Linked DNA regions of Homo sapiens: region 1 is linked to region 2. A link means that fine-mapping ties the variant in region 2 to the expression of a gene that starts in the linked region. Tissue or cell type: whole blood. Region 2 holds a variant in brackets; the other region holds the start of a gene. All regions are shown on one strand. Distances are between the middles of the regions.

Evidence for each region. PIP is the estimated chance that this variant, and not a neighbour inherited with it, causes the effect.
Region 1: it holds the start of PDE1B, and the variant in region 2 is fine-mapped to the expression of PDE1B in whole blood (TOPMed, PIP above 0.99).

What each region holds. Positions count from the first base shown.
Region 1 is chr12:54,545,034-54,553,125 of GRCh38, forward strand. It overlaps PDE1B (phosphodiesterase 1B), which reads left to right and starts at 4,568. Exons shown (of 16, transcript NM_000924.4): 1 at 4,568-4,739; 2 at 4,827-4,952. The coding sequence starts at 4,840. NCKAP1L (NCK associated protein 1 like) reads left to right here. Exons shown (of 31, transcript NM_005337.5): 31 at 1-3,210. RefSeq lists enhancers at 1,426-1,970, 5,118-5,746 and a silencer at 4,493-4,552.
Region 2 is chr12:54,494,077-54,502,182 of GRCh38, forward strand. It overlaps NCKAP1L (NCK associated protein 1 like), which reads left to right and starts at 3,676. Exons shown (of 31, transcript NM_005337.5): 1 at 3,676-3,815; 2 at 5,279-5,389; 3 at 6,457-6,549. The coding sequence starts at 3,714. RefSeq lists enhancers at 3,638-3,697, 3,808-3,867. The variant A/T (reference allele first, on the strand shown) is at 4,028.

The DNA.
Region 1 (8,092 bases), 51 kb after region 2:
AGTTCCATCACCACAAGGATCCCTCGCATTGCTCTTTTATAGCAATTTTATAGCAATTTTCTCCTCCCACAACCCCCTTCCCCATCTCTAGCTCCTGGTAACACAGATATATTCTCTATTTCTAAAATTTTGTCATTTGATATATCTTTTTGTAAACATATAATTATACACACATATTTCTCTACCACTTATACTTTTTCAAAGTGCTTTCACATCCTTATAGCAATTCTGCAAGGTAGCCAGGGAAGGCTTTCCTATTTCAGGTCAGAAAACAGATTTAGAAATATTAAATGACTTAATGAAGGTCACATGTTTAGCAGTAGAACTAGAACTGGGACCCAAGTCTGATGTTCAGTCCTAGACCTTTTCTACTTGCCCGGTCTGCCTCTTCACAAGGGAAGACTTGGGTTTTAGAATCCAGAGACCTTAGAAGGAGCAAATTGGAGAAGGTGAGGACATGATGGCCTTTACTACCGGAAGCAAAAAGTGAATGTCCAGAGGTGAAGGGACAGAGAAGTAACAGGACCCATCAGCATTTCAGGCAATTTGCTTCCTTTACCAGGAGGGTCTCTGTCCTCTTACAACCTGGGAAAAAATAAGTTGTGTCCCAGGTTGTAAGTTTGCTTTACTTAGGCCCAAAGGAACTAAAGAATGGATATCAGAAATCTCACCCCAATTGTTTTGTCTTACAGGCACAGAATAGGTTCTAGCCTCAGCATTTTCATTAATGTAGTGTTTTTATTAACATCTCCATTAACTTGCTTGCAGCAATGAGATGGAATTATGCCTCCCACAAGGCCTGGGGCAAGATACTTGCATAGGTGCCCCCTTTTGTTTGGACAGTAGAAACACTGCCTCCCCTGCCATGGTGTTCAATCCAGTTGGCAGGTGGGCCAGCTTCAAAGTGCAGAAGGAACTGGGTGTGGTGGCTCACCCCTGTAATCCCAGCACTTTGGGAGGCAGGCGGATCGCTTGAACTCAGGAGTTTGAGACCACTCTGGGCAACACAGTGAAACCCTGTCTCTCCAAAAATACAAAAAATTAGCTGGGCATGGTGGCTGTTGTCTGTAATCCCAACACTTTGGGAGGCTGAGGCCAGTGGATCTCTTGAGCTAAGGAGGTTAAGACCAGCCTGGTCAACATGGCGAACTCCGTCTCTACAAAAAAATACGAAAATTAGCTGGGCGTAGTAGTTCCTGCCTGTAGTCCTAGCTACTTGGAAGGCTGAGGTGGGGAGGATCGCTTGAGTCCGGGAGGCAGAGGTTGCAGTGAGCGAAGATGATGCCATTGCACTCCAGTCTGGGTGACAGAGCAAGATCCTGTCTCACAAAAAAAAAAAAAAAAAAAAATGCAGAAGGTCCAGGGCCTGGCCAAGGGGATGATGCCCTGTAGCACTTTGCTTTGCAGGAAGGGAACAACTGTGCTGTGAATACCAGGATCCAGGAGGGAGGGAGGGTATATCTGTGTCCCCCAGCTAGGGACAAGGCTTCCTTAACCTTAGGTCCTCATGCTTATATTAGTTCTTCTCCAACAAAGTTTGACTTTGAGAAGAAGCTGGCACATGGCTGAAATGCACTCACGCGGTTGGGGGAAGAGTGTTCTTCCAGTCCTCCTCCCCACAGGGCCTCCTGCTTCTCCTAAGTACCTGTCATCAAAGGAGATGAAGATGAATCCCCCTTCAGCCCCCACACCTCAATGAGTTGTCAAGTACTCTCCCTCCCACTTGAATAGGAAGCAGGAGCAGCAGGCCAGGTTGCAGGTTGAGGAAGTCAGAAGTTAACTTGAGCTGAGTTTGCAGCTCTGGAGAGATTGAGGAGCAGACTTTTCTCTTGTCACTTTGGAAGGAGAGGATTGTGAGGCTGCCCCTTTAAATAGCATTCCCGTAGGAGGCAGATCACATCCATCCGTCACCTACTGCCAAAGCATCATTTTTGGTTTCTATCAAACTCAAAGCTTGTTGGAAAGGATTGTGGGGTTAGGGGAGTGAGGAGGCAGAGCCTCCTAGGGGTAGGGGGCAGTTTAGAAGCTGAAAAGGAGAGGAATGAGAAGGAGCCTGGGAAAGGTGGGGGATGAGGACAAGAGGAAAAGACAGGGAGAGAATAGTTGTCTTTTGAGCCTCAGAGTGGAACAAGTATACCCAATTCTTATCTGTTTAGAGACGCAGCAAGGTAGAAATGGGATTGTATTGCAACAAGAGGAATGAGGTTGAGACTAAACACCAGGACTGGTGACTAAAGAAAGTGAAAGGAGCCACAGAGTGAAAAAGGCTGATAGACTTGGCTCTGGTTTTATCACTTACTCTCTGTGAGACCCTATAATTTTTCTGGGTTAGTTTAGTTCTCATTTATTTTTATTTTTACTTTTTCCATCAAACTGTGTTGTCTATGAAGTTTTCCCATTTATTAAATGAAGGGAATTAGAGTGGATGAACTCTAATGTCTCTTTCACGAATAACTTTGTGTGTGTGTGCGTGTGTGTGTGTGTGTGTGTGTGTGTGTGTGAATTAGCCTTAAAATGAATCAGGAGCAGGGGGTCTTGGGAGAGCAGGATGTGACACTGTGTTAACAAGAAATGTTGAGAGAGCCCTCTGGATGTATGTCTTGCCTCTTTCCCACCTATTCTAGTTTAAAGACCTGCCTAAATTTGGAAACTCCTTAGCTCTAATCCTAATTTACTAATTAGAGCTCTTTAGCACCATCCTAATTTGCAATTCTTTTGTAGTTTCCAGCCCATTTCATTTTCAGTTGATAAGGAGGAGATTGCTCCCAAATTTTCAGAAATGGACTGTGTAGGAGTGTGACTAGGGTCTCAGATGCAGCCATTTCTTGGCTGGGTCTGGGGAAAAGCCAAGGGATGTGTGCTAAAGGTAGATGGACAGAGGGTGGGAAGTCCCTTATTATTTCCACTTTTTTCTCCATCTCTGACTCTGCCATCTCTTTCTGCCTCTGTACTTTCTGGGAGCTGGTTCTGCTGATACTTCTGCTGAATCTAAATGCTGACCTAACTTGGCAATTCTTTTATGTTAGGAGTCTTAGCTGTGACAGTTCATCCGCTTCTTCGCCCTTCCATTTCACTTCTTTTCTCCTTCTCTGACTGGGAGAGGAGGAGCCTCCACTCAGTATTTAGAACAGAGTAAATACCTTCTCCTGATCACTCCTCCTTCCAACCTCCAGAATTTTTTGAAATTAAAATTCACATTCTGGGATCCTGGATTAGTGGCCTGTTTTGGATTCAGTAGTTAGTGAATATATCTCCACTTTCTGTTGACATAGGAGTTTCCCCAATGCCAAAGCAGGTGGTCATTAAGGGAGAGAACAATATGGAGCAAGAGAGGTGGTTCCTGCAAGAGTCCTAGGTAGGACTCGGTTGGATGGAGGAGGCTTTGCCCTTTTACAAGGTCTTGAGTTCAAATTCCAGTTCACTCCTTCCACAAATGTTTATTAACCAGCTAGGCTGTTTTGTGCTGGGCCTTTAGCTCCTAGATTTCTTTCTCTGAAGACAGAACAGAAAAAATGAGCTGGAAGTGCTTCAGGAGGGGTTTTGATATCAGGAATGCTTTCCTGGCTGTGTAGAGTTATTACCTAGTCAAAGAAGAAGATGTTAAGCTGGGTGCGGTGGCTCACACCTGTAATCCCACCACTTTGGGAGGCCGACGTGGGCGGATCACGAGGTCAGGAGTTGGAGACCAGCCTGGCCAATATAGTGAAACCCCATCTCTACTAAAAAATACAAAAATTAGCCGGCGTGGTGGCCCGCGCCTGTAGTCCCAGCTACTCCAGGAGGCTGAGGCAGGAGAATCGCTGGAACTGGGGAGGCAGAGGTTGCAGTGAGCCGAGATCGCGCCACTGCACTGCAGCCTGGGCGACACAGACTCCTTCTCAAAAAAAAAAAAAAAAAAAAAAAAAAAAAAAAAGATGCCTGCTCTGGAGAGCTTTGAACTTGGAAGAAATTCCTATCTGCTAGGCGGGCAGGCAGAAGTACCATGGAGAAGGCCACAGTCTTGGAGACAGGTGGGGAAGATCAAGCTGAGGGACCCGAGGCCAAGTGTGGGATGCCATCACAGCTCAGGGCACACCCTGAACTTTTCCAAGACAGGAGCACAGGTGGGGTCTGGTCCGACTGGGTTCCGAGTCCAGATCTAGCAGGGAAAGATGTGTGCTCATCCCCTACCCCGCACTCAGACATGGGACACGCAGGCAGCTAGGCACACGTGGATACATGGAACCACAACCACATACACAGAAACTCAAAACACACGGAGAGAACCCACACAACCACCCACACCGAAGTCCAGCCCGCCGCCTCCGCTGCACTCTGTAAACACGCACTCACATCCGCCAGTACAGGGCACACGCAGCCACTCGTCCCCGGCGCCTGTGTGCGTGCGCTCGCCCTTGGGCGCTTCTGTCTGTGTGTGCCCCCGGCTTCCAATCGTTCCTTTGGGAGGGGGAGGAGTGGCTGTGAGGAGTGAGAGACTGGCGGGCAGGCTGAGGAGAAGGGAGGGAGAGCAGAGGGAGGGGGGAACCCGGCCGGGGGAGGAGGAGAGAGGCGAGGAGGCGGCTCTGGCAGCGCGCGGCGGCGGCGGCGGTAGCGGCAGCAGCAGCGGCGGTGCGGAGAGCTTGGACTGGGAGCCCAAAGCTCGGCTGGGCAGCGGGAGAGGAGGAGCCGCAGGAGCTGCAGCTCTGCCAGCTTGGGCCGAGCCTAGAGACACCGGCCTGGCTGGTCCACGCCAGCCGCAGGTGGGAAGGGCCTGGGATGGGGGGTGAGGGTCTCTCGGCTGGGGCTGAAGCTGAGCCGAGGTGCTGTCTCCTCCTTCTGTTCCGTAGACCGTGGCTGAGCATGGAGCTGTCCCCCCGCAGTCCTCCGGAGATGCTGGAGGAGTCGGATTGCCCGTCACCCCTGGAGCTGAAGTCAGCCCCCAGCAAGAAGATGTGGATTAAGCTTCGGTCTCTGTAAGTCCCCGGCCCGGGAATGGGGGGAAGGGACCTTAGGGAGCCTGAGCGGGAGGAGGAGGGGGGATAACTGGAGCAGGGCTGTGGGCTGGTAGATTCTCTTTGGCACAGATGTTGGCAGGTGCGAGGAAGCACGGCCCTGACACGCGTGGCCAGGCCACATGTGCAAGGCATGTGCGGAGCAAGCTGGCCAGTTGGAGCGGGCTTAGGAGTTGCAAAGGTAACGATGTGCCTGTGCCTGTGGACCCCAGGCTGACACACGCAGCGCCTAGAGGCAGCACAGTATATGCAGTGTGGCAGGGCTGCAGGAGGGCAGTAGAGGTGCCAGGCTGACTCACACATATCCATGTGCAGAGTTGTGCAGATGTGAGCCACATGACATGTGTGTGCATGAGTGAGCGTGGGTCACAGAGGTATGTGGAGTGATTGCACACAGCTGTAGATCTACTGCATGGGAATACTTGTGCCAACCTGTGGGTCATATGTATCTCAGTTGGGATTGGTAGTTTCTGCCTCATGCACAGGAAGTGGGGTGGGGGTTACCCCATGCCTGAGCTGCTCATCTCTTGGGGCCTGGAAACTCACTCTATGTATTAATGATGAGGGGACCCACGTGGAATCTGGAGGGGGGGTTGGAGCCCCCACCTGGAAGCTGAAGGAGGTGATGATGGTGAAGAAATATTGATTGACAAAGGCAAGGTAACTGGCTTAATCAGAGGCTTTTTGTTTATATAGGGTCTTCCAGGATCTCCAAGCACATTTGGGCATCTTTTCCTATTGTTGCAGTACCAGGGCATGTGGGGAGGAATAAATGGGGGAAGGAAGAACTCAGGTATCTGATACTCCAGTCCCAGGGGAGGAAAGGAACTTTTCCCCTGCTCCTTAGAAAAAAAAGAGGATTGGGTCAAAGACAAGCCATGCACCATGTTTATCTCCCAGTCAGCTGCTGCCATTGGGAAATCTCCGCAGTCTGTTGATTCTTAATCAGGGAACAAGAGAAGATGTCCCTCTCTCCGAGATGAATCCATGGCCCCAGGAAAGAGGAAACAGATAGGAGACTATGGATGTTTAGAGAGGAAACACAGTAAACATAGCCCTGAACCCAGTTCCTCCTCAATGTTCTCCATAGTGAGCACCGAAGCTTTCTATTTCTGGGTTCTGGGAGAGGGAGAGATGGGGGTAGGGGATGGATAGATGCTTATGTTGTATTGTTCTTTAAATACTTCACCTATGGTGATAAGATGACACCTTTTTATGGCAGATGGGTCTGATTTATACACTAGCTACTTGGAGAGGCGTTAGGGAGAACTGAGGCATAGTGGGCAACAAGGCTTGGAATCCAAATGTACTTCTCAGTCCTCCTCCTTGGCTGCCTCTGGCCAATCCAATTTGCTGGGCTCTATGAAGCACAGCCTTGGAATGAGTTCTGGGATGAAGAAATGGAAAACCAGATTGAACTGATTTTTGTTGGGAGGAGCACTGTGTGATTCTTGATAGAAAATGACGCTGCGTTAATGGTAAATGAGCTGGGGAAAGGGGCAGATAAGGAAGTAGTTGAAAGGTAAAGAAGGGCCCCAGGTCCATAAATGGGAGAATTCAGGATGGCTCCCCTAACACTAGTGGCTCATCATACTTACCTTGCCTGTATTCCAGGTAACAGGGCCCTGCGAAAGAGTGGGTATTACTAGTTTCACTATCTCCCACACATTTCTAACCAAAAGCCTTTCCTGAAAATGAATTGTTGTTTCTTCCTTTAGTGTGAGAAGTGCTCAGTGGTGAGAGAAGAGGATTCCCAGAAGGAGGCATGAAACCTGGGAAGAGAAGGGAGTAGAGGCATCTGTCTCTCCAGAGTGCCTTAGCTGAGATGTCCTTACATGAGATTAGGGTGGACAAGGATCCCTATTCTTATTGATTAGATCATTCTGGTCTTCACTCACTTCAGCAGTCTGGTCCTTAAGAATGCTAGCTTTGTACAATAAATTTACAAGTAAAAAATAAAGCTAGCTACATGTAATATAACTTACCCAAAAAAGTACAATCTCCGGATTATTAATTGGCAGGAATAGATTCCCAGTCTTACGTCCTTAAAGCAGAGAAAGACCTTGAAATCAAGGTAGATCCCAACTTGATCTATGTTGATGGCCTACTGGATTTTGCCTTTTTGAATATTGGGGAGGCTTTGACTATCAGATGAAGGGAAATAAAAGGATTTAGGGCTTTGCTGGGTAAGAGGTGGGAGTTTCCCAACCCTCTCAATGGGATGGTTTCTGAATAGGTGAGAAAGGAGATGTTCCCCCTTTTAAGTGGAAATAAAGATCCCCCTGCCCCTTTGGTCAAGGTGGGAAGGGGTTGCTAAGTCTGGAAATAGGAAATAGACATGATTATCTTAGGACTGGGTACTGCTTGGAAATGGAAACATGGCATATATACTTGTATGTATTTATCTAACTATCTATCTAGATTCTTCTACTCAACACATCCTATTCCCCCCCTTCTACCCTTTTAATTTCTAATCAGGACATCCAGACTTTCTTCAGGGAGACTAGGCCTGGTGTTTTTGACTCTGGATAAAAAGCCCACACTAATATAATAGTGCAGGGCAATTTTTTGTTGGGAAGAGCATCCAAGAATTCTGTTTCCCACACTAAGACCCTGTCAAAAATAAATTCAGAATCTAATCTGTATCATATGAGCTGAAGAGAATCTCTTAACTGTGTGATTTTACCCCTATTTTCAGAACAATTTCTCTAATTAAGCAAACTCATAAACTGAGGCATGAGAGAGGGTGAAAGAGGCCATCTGGAGATGATGAGTTGGCCAGGATGATTTTCAGCATCTGTAACCCTAAGAGGAAGTATTTGACTTGGCTGTCCACCCTTCTCTGAGATCAGAGGGCTTTAGGGAATGGGAAGAAGACCAGAAGAGATAGAAATGATTTTCTGTGTCTTTTGTGATTCAAGAAAAACGATGAGCAGACATTGGTTTGCCATCCTCAGCTCATTTATTTATCCAACAACTATTTCTTGAGTGCCTTCTATGGACCAGGTGGCATGCTGGATGCTGAGAATACAGTCGGTGGTGGACAAAACAGACATAGTCCCTCTTCCTACAGAGCTTGTAACCTGCTTCAACTCCATCAA
Region 2 (8,106 bases):
ATTAATATTAATTGAGGTAATACATGTAAGCTTGAGTGCTTATAGTACTTCAAATGCTTTACATGTACAGAGTAAGTAACTAGGCTATAACTTTTAAAATATGCACAATAGCTCCGTGAAATAGGAAGTATTATCAATATCATCTTTATTTTACAGACAGGATAAATAGGATGTGAACTCAAGATATCTGGTTCCAGAACCTGGGCTCTCGGTCACTAAATCATAAGGCTCAGCCCACTGTACTCAACTACACTTGAGCCAAATTCTGTCTGATAACAGCAGGTAGGCTTTTCGCATATACCAAGTACAGGGGAATAAGTGTTTCCAGGTTTCAACAATCTTTTGGTTCAGCTGGCTAGGCAGTATTATATGAAATGGGCAGTTAAGGACAGAACCTGATTTAGATGTAAAGTATGTGGTATAGACCAAGTGTTGTGGGAGTTCGGCAAAACCTAGACTTGGGACTATTGAGCTAGATCCTGAAGATTGACTAGGATTTGGGTAAGCAAGAAGGAAAGCATGCGTAAGTGAAGTCAGAGAGGCAGACATGAACATAGCACATTCACAGCAGGCTGAGAAGATGGTCCCCACCAAGTTGGGGAGTATCCATTAAGGAGCAGGAAACAAGATTAGCTTGGGATGCAGAGTCTTCAACCACACTTTCAGGATAAAGACAAGAAATTCAAGTGAGGTGGCTCACAAAAAATACAAAAATTAGCCAGACGTGGTGGCCTGCACCTGAAGTCCCAGCTACTCAGGAGGCTGAAGTGAGAGGATCTCTTGAGCCTGGGAGGTCAAGGTTGCAGTGAGCCATGATAGCACTACTGCACTCAAGCCTGGGCAACAGAGCGAGAGCTTGTCTCAGGAAAAAAAAAAAAAAAAAAAAAAGGAATGCAAGAAAGAGCCGCTAGAATTACACTAACCCCACGAAGACCGGTGCTATGCTGCTGCTAAGCTTCCTGGATGTTGGCCTCTTACTGTCTGCTCCATATTCTCCTTGGTAAAGGTAAAAGACCAGTAGAAATCCTACAAATTGCTTTAGTAAAACCTGGGTTTCTTTGATAACAGCAGGTAATTCAAATCTTCATGACCAATATCACATTACCTCGAGCCCATAGCTTTCTAGGGACCCAGTCTAGTAAATAAAATGGAAGGCAGATTCTATATTCCTAAAATGCAAATTCTACCTTAGAGATATTTGAAATTTCATGCGTTAAGTGTTGCCATCTTGCTGCTTCTTTTAAAAATACATTCTCTTTGGAGCATGGATGTTAAGTTTCTTTTTAAAATTAAAAAACATTTAGATTCAGGGGATACACATGCAGGTTTGTTACATGGGTATATTGTGTGATGCTGAGATTTGGGCTTCTAATGAACCCATCACCCATGCCCAAATAGTGAACACAGTACTCAAGTTTTTTTTTCTTTCTTGCCTTTATTTATTTATTTATTTATTTATTTATTTATTTAGAGACATAGTCTTGCTCTATCGACCAGGCTGGAGTGCGGTGTTGAACTCCTGGGCTCAAGCGACCATCCCACCTCAGCCTCCTGAGGAGCTGGGCCTACAGCCATGTACCACCACACCAGGCTAATTTATTTTATTTTATCTGTAGAGGGGTGGGGGAAGGTCTCACAATGTTGCCTAGGCTGGTCTTGAACTCCTGGCTTCAAGCAATCCTTCTACCTTTGCCTCCCAAAGTGCTGGGATTATAAGCATGAGCCACTTCACCTGGCCCCAACTTCTTAAGTAATAATGCTGATCAGCCTTGTCTCTCTTCTCCCACTCCCTAGAATTTATTGGGACAATGGGAACTCTGGATACGGAAAATGGGAATGATTAAAAACCTGAGAAAAGGAATTGGCAAGGTGGTGGAAATGAAGAGAACTCTTTTTGATTTATAATTTTTCCTAGGACCTTTTGCTTTGTGTCTTGAAAGAAAGTTGAAATAGAGTTGAAAATTTTCTTGAGTTACGGAGTTAAGGCCTCATTGGAATGGCAAGAATATTTTAATGCTAAAATTCATTCAAGTCTCTAAGATTTAAGGGTGATTACTAATTTCCTCTTTTTAATCTTGATTAATTTGGTTCTTCTTCATGGGGCCTATTTCCTAATTTAGTCTTAATAATTCAACAAATAAACCAGCATATTTATTGAGTGACTACTGTGTCCAAGAGGTATTGTTCTAGATCAGTGTTTTTCAGAATGGAATATTTGTACCAAAACCTCCTACAACAGTGCTTATATAAGTACAGACTTCTAGGCCCCACAACAGACTCGCCTACCTACCAATGCTAATCTCAGAGGACAGGGATTGATCTGTTTCTCAAGCATCCATAAATACCATGGTACTAGAGCACTGGTTCTCAAACTTGAGTGTGCATTGGAATCACCTGGAGGGTTTGTTAAAACACAGAGTGCCTGGACCCACCCCAGAATTTTGGATTCAGTGGTCTGGGGCGGGTCCTAAGAATTTGCATCTCTAACAAGTTTCCAGGTGATGCTGATGCTGCTGGATCACATTTTGAGAATTACTATGTACTTCTTGAGAACTACTTTGAGAATTATTATGTACTGTAGAAGTACAATGCACTGTAGTAGAGCATTGTGAGAAATATAAAAAAGTATTAGAGGCCGGGTGTGGTGGCTCATGCCTGTAATTCCAGTACTTTGGGAGGCTGTGGCGGGTAAATCACCTGAGGTCAGGAGTTCGAGAGCAGCCTGGCCAACACGGTGAAACCCCATGTCTACTAAAAATACAAAAATTAGCAAGGCGTGGTGGTGGGCACCTGTAACCACAGCTACTCCAGAGGCTGAGGCTGGAGAATTGCTTGAGCCCAGGAGGTGGAGGTTGTAGTGAGCAGAGATCATGCCATTGCACTCCAGCCTGGGCAACAAGAGTGGAACTCTGTTTCAAAAAAAAAAAAAAAAAGAAAAAAAAGTATTAGGTACAATTCCTGTCATTAAGGAGCTTATGCTGTAGTTGGGGGAGATACAACGTACACTATAAACATATAACAAGGAATATATGTATTTGACAATATAAAATATAATACAATATAATATTTGACATTGATGGGGTCTTTAGGAGAAGATGGGATTTGATCTGGGTACTAAAACATGATGAGGCCAAAGGTTCATAGGCATTCTTGGATATAAAAGAAGGAAAATATAGAGGTGTACAGGGGTGGGGTGGTAGATACTTGTTTATCTAGCTTACAGCTTTTAATTTTTATTTTTTATAGAGATGGGGTCTTGCTATGTTGCCCAGGCTGGTCTGGAACTCCTGAGCTCAATGGATCTTCCCACCTTTTCCTCCCAAAGTGCTGGGATTACAGGTGTGAGCCACCACGCCCAGCTTTGTCTAGGACACTTATGGGGGCATAAGACCAAAAAGGTTGGTGCAGTCTGTGAAGAGCCTTGAAAGCCTGTCCTTCTCCTCAGCTCCACCCACTTCATAGCCTTACCAAAAGTGCTGCACAGCCAGAAAGAGGAAGTCTCCCCTGCTGAGTGTGCAAGAGGAAGCACAAGAAGGCTCTGAGGGCCTGTGAGCCATAATGACTGATTTCACCCATGAGCCAATTGCAGAGGCAACAGAAGACCAGTGCACCAACCAGGCTGGGTCCCTCCGCCAGAGGGTGTCACCATCTAAGCTGAAAGTGTTTGGGGAGATCAGACATTGCTGTCTGGTGCTCCTCTCTCAGTGGCCATCATGTCTTTGACATCTGCTTACCAGCATAAATTAGCAGAGAAGCTCACTATCCTGAATGATCGCGGTCAGGGGGTTCTCATCCGTATGTATAACATCAAGAAGGTAAGCATGAACAATGGGACTAGTACTGATTATTCCAACAATAATAGGGCAGGGAACCCTGAGGCGGCAGGTGCAGCAGTTAGACTCCCACCTTTTTTTCCACTGCTTTTCCACTGACTATAATCTACATAATCACTCAGATTATACAGGCCAGCCAGTTCAGGAAGGCAGAAGTGGAGGCTTCTTTTCAAGGCTTCCCCTTTCTAGATATG[A/T]TTCTTGCCCCAACGATGGCATCTGCTTTCCTCTGGGGATGGGGGTGAGGGTGGGGATGGGGAAACAACAGTGGTATTCCAAGTGACTTGGATAAAGGTCTGGGGTCCAACCTTCTGGGTTTTATTATTTATTGTTGATCCTCTACACTCTGAAGAGATCTGAAGCTGGGTCTCTGGCAAAAACTTTTCTGTGGAAGTGCTTCCCTAAAAGGAAAAAAAATAGATAATTAGGTATTTAGATTAAAAAGGGTAGGTGTCTTCTGAGCTGCTCCTGGGGTAGTTCATGCTGTGGTGGTTGTGTGTGTGTGTGTGTGTGTGTGTGTGTGTGTGTTTAGAATAGGAACTGAGGAATTGAAAGAAGCTAGTGACAAGAGGTGGGCTAGGGGCTGGGCAAACCATAGGAAGTAAAGAGATAAAGACAGGGGTGTTTATGGGGAGTTCCTGGCATAGAAAATAGGGGACTTTGGGGGAGGGAGCTTTTGTGTTTTTTGTAATAAAACAAATCACCAGGAACACGGTTTCTCTGTCACCATGAATCCTGTAAATGCCCTTTGGGATAAGATACTTACATAGTGAACAAAATTGTGACACTGAATCTTGTACAAAGTCTAACTCCTGAGCAGCTGCTTTTCTTGTTCCTTCCGGCTTCAGTTGAGGGGCGGGGAAACAGCTTCCTCTTTGTGCTGGGGCCAAGCAGGCATTAAACTCTACCCATCAAGACAAAATGCCTAGGTTGTTATTTCGCTCTTAGATACTTGGCTTAATGTCTTGGAATTTTTTCTTGACCTACTCTTATGCTTTTTATTTTTATATTTATTTATTTATTTATTTATTTATTTATTTTCGGAGTCTCGCTCTGTCGCCCAGGCTGGAGTGCAGTGGCACGATCTTGGCTCACTGCAACCTCCGCCTCCCGGGTTCAAGCGATTCTCCTGCCTCAGCCTCCCAAGTACCTGGGACTACAGTTGTGCACCACCATGCCCAGCTAATTTTTGTATTTTTAGTAGAGACGGGGTTTCACCATGTTGGCCAGGCTGGTCTCGAACTTCTGACCTTGTGATCTGCCTGCCTCGGCCTCCCGAAGTGCTGGGATTACAGGTGTGAGCCGCTGCGCCCAGCCTCTCATGCTTTTTAAATTAGTTCCCAGGTTGCCTTTTCCTAAGACAGATTATGAGAATGAATGTTGCAAGAAGAGGTATGTTTCTGAGGAGGAGGAGAAAGGGTTGAAATATATATGGTTTCTCTCTGCAGACTTGTTCAGACCCCAAATCTAAGCCACCTTTCTTACTGGAAAAGTCCATGGAACCATCTCTCAAGTATATCAACAAGAAATTTCCCAACATAGATGTCCGAAACAGCACGGTGAGAACTTGGTCCTTCTCTCCTTTCTCTGAATAATTCTCTGCTTGAATGGCTGAAATTCTCCTCTTTTGATGCCTCTCTTCAAACTTGGCAGGGGATGGAGTAGTCTTTTTTTATTAATAGTTTTCCAAGGCTCAACCACAGGGCTTCAGGTTGTTGTAGAGCTTTAAGTCTTGAGCATTTTGAGATAAGATGGGATTCTTCCAGCATAAGCTGGAGCGAATCATCACCCCTTTTCCATTGCAAGATTCATGGGAAAACATTGTTTTTGTACAAGACAGCTCTATCAACCCAGCAGGGTACATGTATTTTATTGTTTCTGTTTCCCACTCACTGTTTCCTTGCTGTTTGTCTTAGATTTCTGCATCTAATGGGATATCTCTACTTTTCCCTTATTAAATGTTAACCCTAGATTTTTCACCCATCTTTGTAGCATCTTTGAATTCTGTTTCTTTTGACTTTGATATAAATAGTATATCTGTTCATCTGAAAGGGTGCTTAAAATTTCCTCTCATTTAGCCCTCTGTATCTAGTCAGGATCACATGCAACCATTCTACCTAGATAGACAATCTCCTTTGTTTAAAGACCTTCAGAGCACTGAAGCGTTTCTAACTTCCTCTGTCAGTATATTTCAACTCTCTTTCTTTTTCTTTTCTTTTCTTTTTTTTTTTTTTTGAGATGGAGTCTTGCTCTGTCACCCAGGCTGGAGTGCAGTAGCACAATCTTGGCTCACTGCAACCTCTGCTTCCCAGGTTCAAGTGATTCTTCTGACTCAGCCTCTCGAGTAGCTGGCATTACAGGCGCCCGCCACCACGCCCAGCTAATTTTTGTATTTTTAATAGAGACGGGGTTTCACCAGGTTGGCCAGGCTGGTCTTGAACCCCTGACCTCAGGTGATCCGCCTGCCTCGGCCTCCCAAAGTGCTGGGATTACAGGTGTGAGCCACTGCGCCCGGCCTCAACCCTCTTTAAGAATGTTTTAGGTATAACCACTGTTCTTCTTGAGTTATTTGGATCAATTGTCTTATTTTGCACTTTTTTATTGTTTTGTTTTGTGTTTCTCTCAGCAACATTTAGGACCAGTACATCGTGAAAAAGCCGAGATAATTAGATTCCTCACCAACTACTACCAGTCATTTGTGGATGTCATGGAATTTCGGGTGAGCTCTCTTGAGCCGTTTCCAATGTAGGCAAGGTCTTTCAGAGGCTATTCTTTCTTTAGATGTTCATGTATTTGCTTAAAACAAGTTCTTGAAAAAATGAGAGAGATGTACTAATATGGAAGGATATCTAAGTTGTATTGTTAAATGAAAGCAAATTTCAAAATAGTATATGATACATCACATTTCTATTTTAAAAGAGTATGTATGTATATGTATTTAGTAAATATCTAGGAAAGATCTGGACTATTTTACATTAAACTGTTAAAAATAACTACCTTTGGGGACTGATTATGACTGGCTTCAATTTAGTAGGCTATGCATGTTTTTTCTATTTTAAAAATTATGGTAAAATACACATAACATAAAATTTACTGTCTTAACCATTTTTAAGTATACAGTTCAGTGGTACTAAGTATATTAATAATGCAACCATCTTTTCACCTTGTAAACCTGAAACTCTCTACCCTTTATGCAATAATTCCCCATTTCCCTTTCTTTCCAGCCCCTTGCCATCACAATTCTACTTTGTTTTTGTGATTTTGACTATTCTAAGTACCTTATATAAGTAGAATCATAAAGCATTTGTCTTTTTGTGGCTGGCTTATTTCATCAGCCTAATGTCCTTAAGGTTCATCCCTGTTGTAGCATATTGTAGAATTTCCTTTTTAAGCTAAATAATATTCCATTGTATGATTATACTACATTTTGCTTATCCGATCGTATGTTGATGGACACTTAGGTTGCTTCCAAGTTTTAGCTATTGTAAATGATGCTGCTATGAACGTGGGTGTACAAATATATCTTCAAAACCCTACTTTCAATTCTTTTGATTATAAACATGAAAGTGGAAATGCTGGATCATATGATAATTCTATTATTAACTTTTTTTTTTTTGAGTTAGGGTCTCACTCTGTTGCCCAGGCTGGAGTGTAGTGGTGCAATCACAGCTCACTGCTGCCTCGACCTCCTAGGCTCAGGTGATCCTCCCACCTCAGCCTCTTGAATAGCTGGGGCTAAAGGCACATGCCACCACACCTGGCTAAGTTTTTATATTTTTTGTAGAGATGGGGTATCCCCATGTTGGCCAGGGTGGTCTCAAACTCCTGGGCTCAAGCTATCCACCCACCTCGGCCTCCCAAAGGCTGGACTGTGCCGGCCTATTTTTAACTTTTTGAGGAACTGCTATACTGTTTTCCACAGTGGCTGTACTCTTTTACATTCTCACCAACGGTGCATAAGGGCTATAATTCCTCCACATCCTCGCCAACAATTGTTATTTCGTTTTTTTGACAGTAGCCATCCCAGTGGGTGTGAGGTATTATCTCATCTAAGTTTTTATTTGAATTTTTGCTAATGATTAGTGATAATGAGCATTTTTCATAGGCTTATTGGCCATTTATATATCTTCTTTGAAGAAATGTCTGTTTCATTCTTTGACCATTTTTGAATTGGATTTTTTGTGTGTGTTGAGACTTAGGAGTTCTCTATACAGGTTGAGTATTCCTTATGGAAAATTCTTGAGACCAGAGTGTTTTGAATTTCATATGTTTGCAG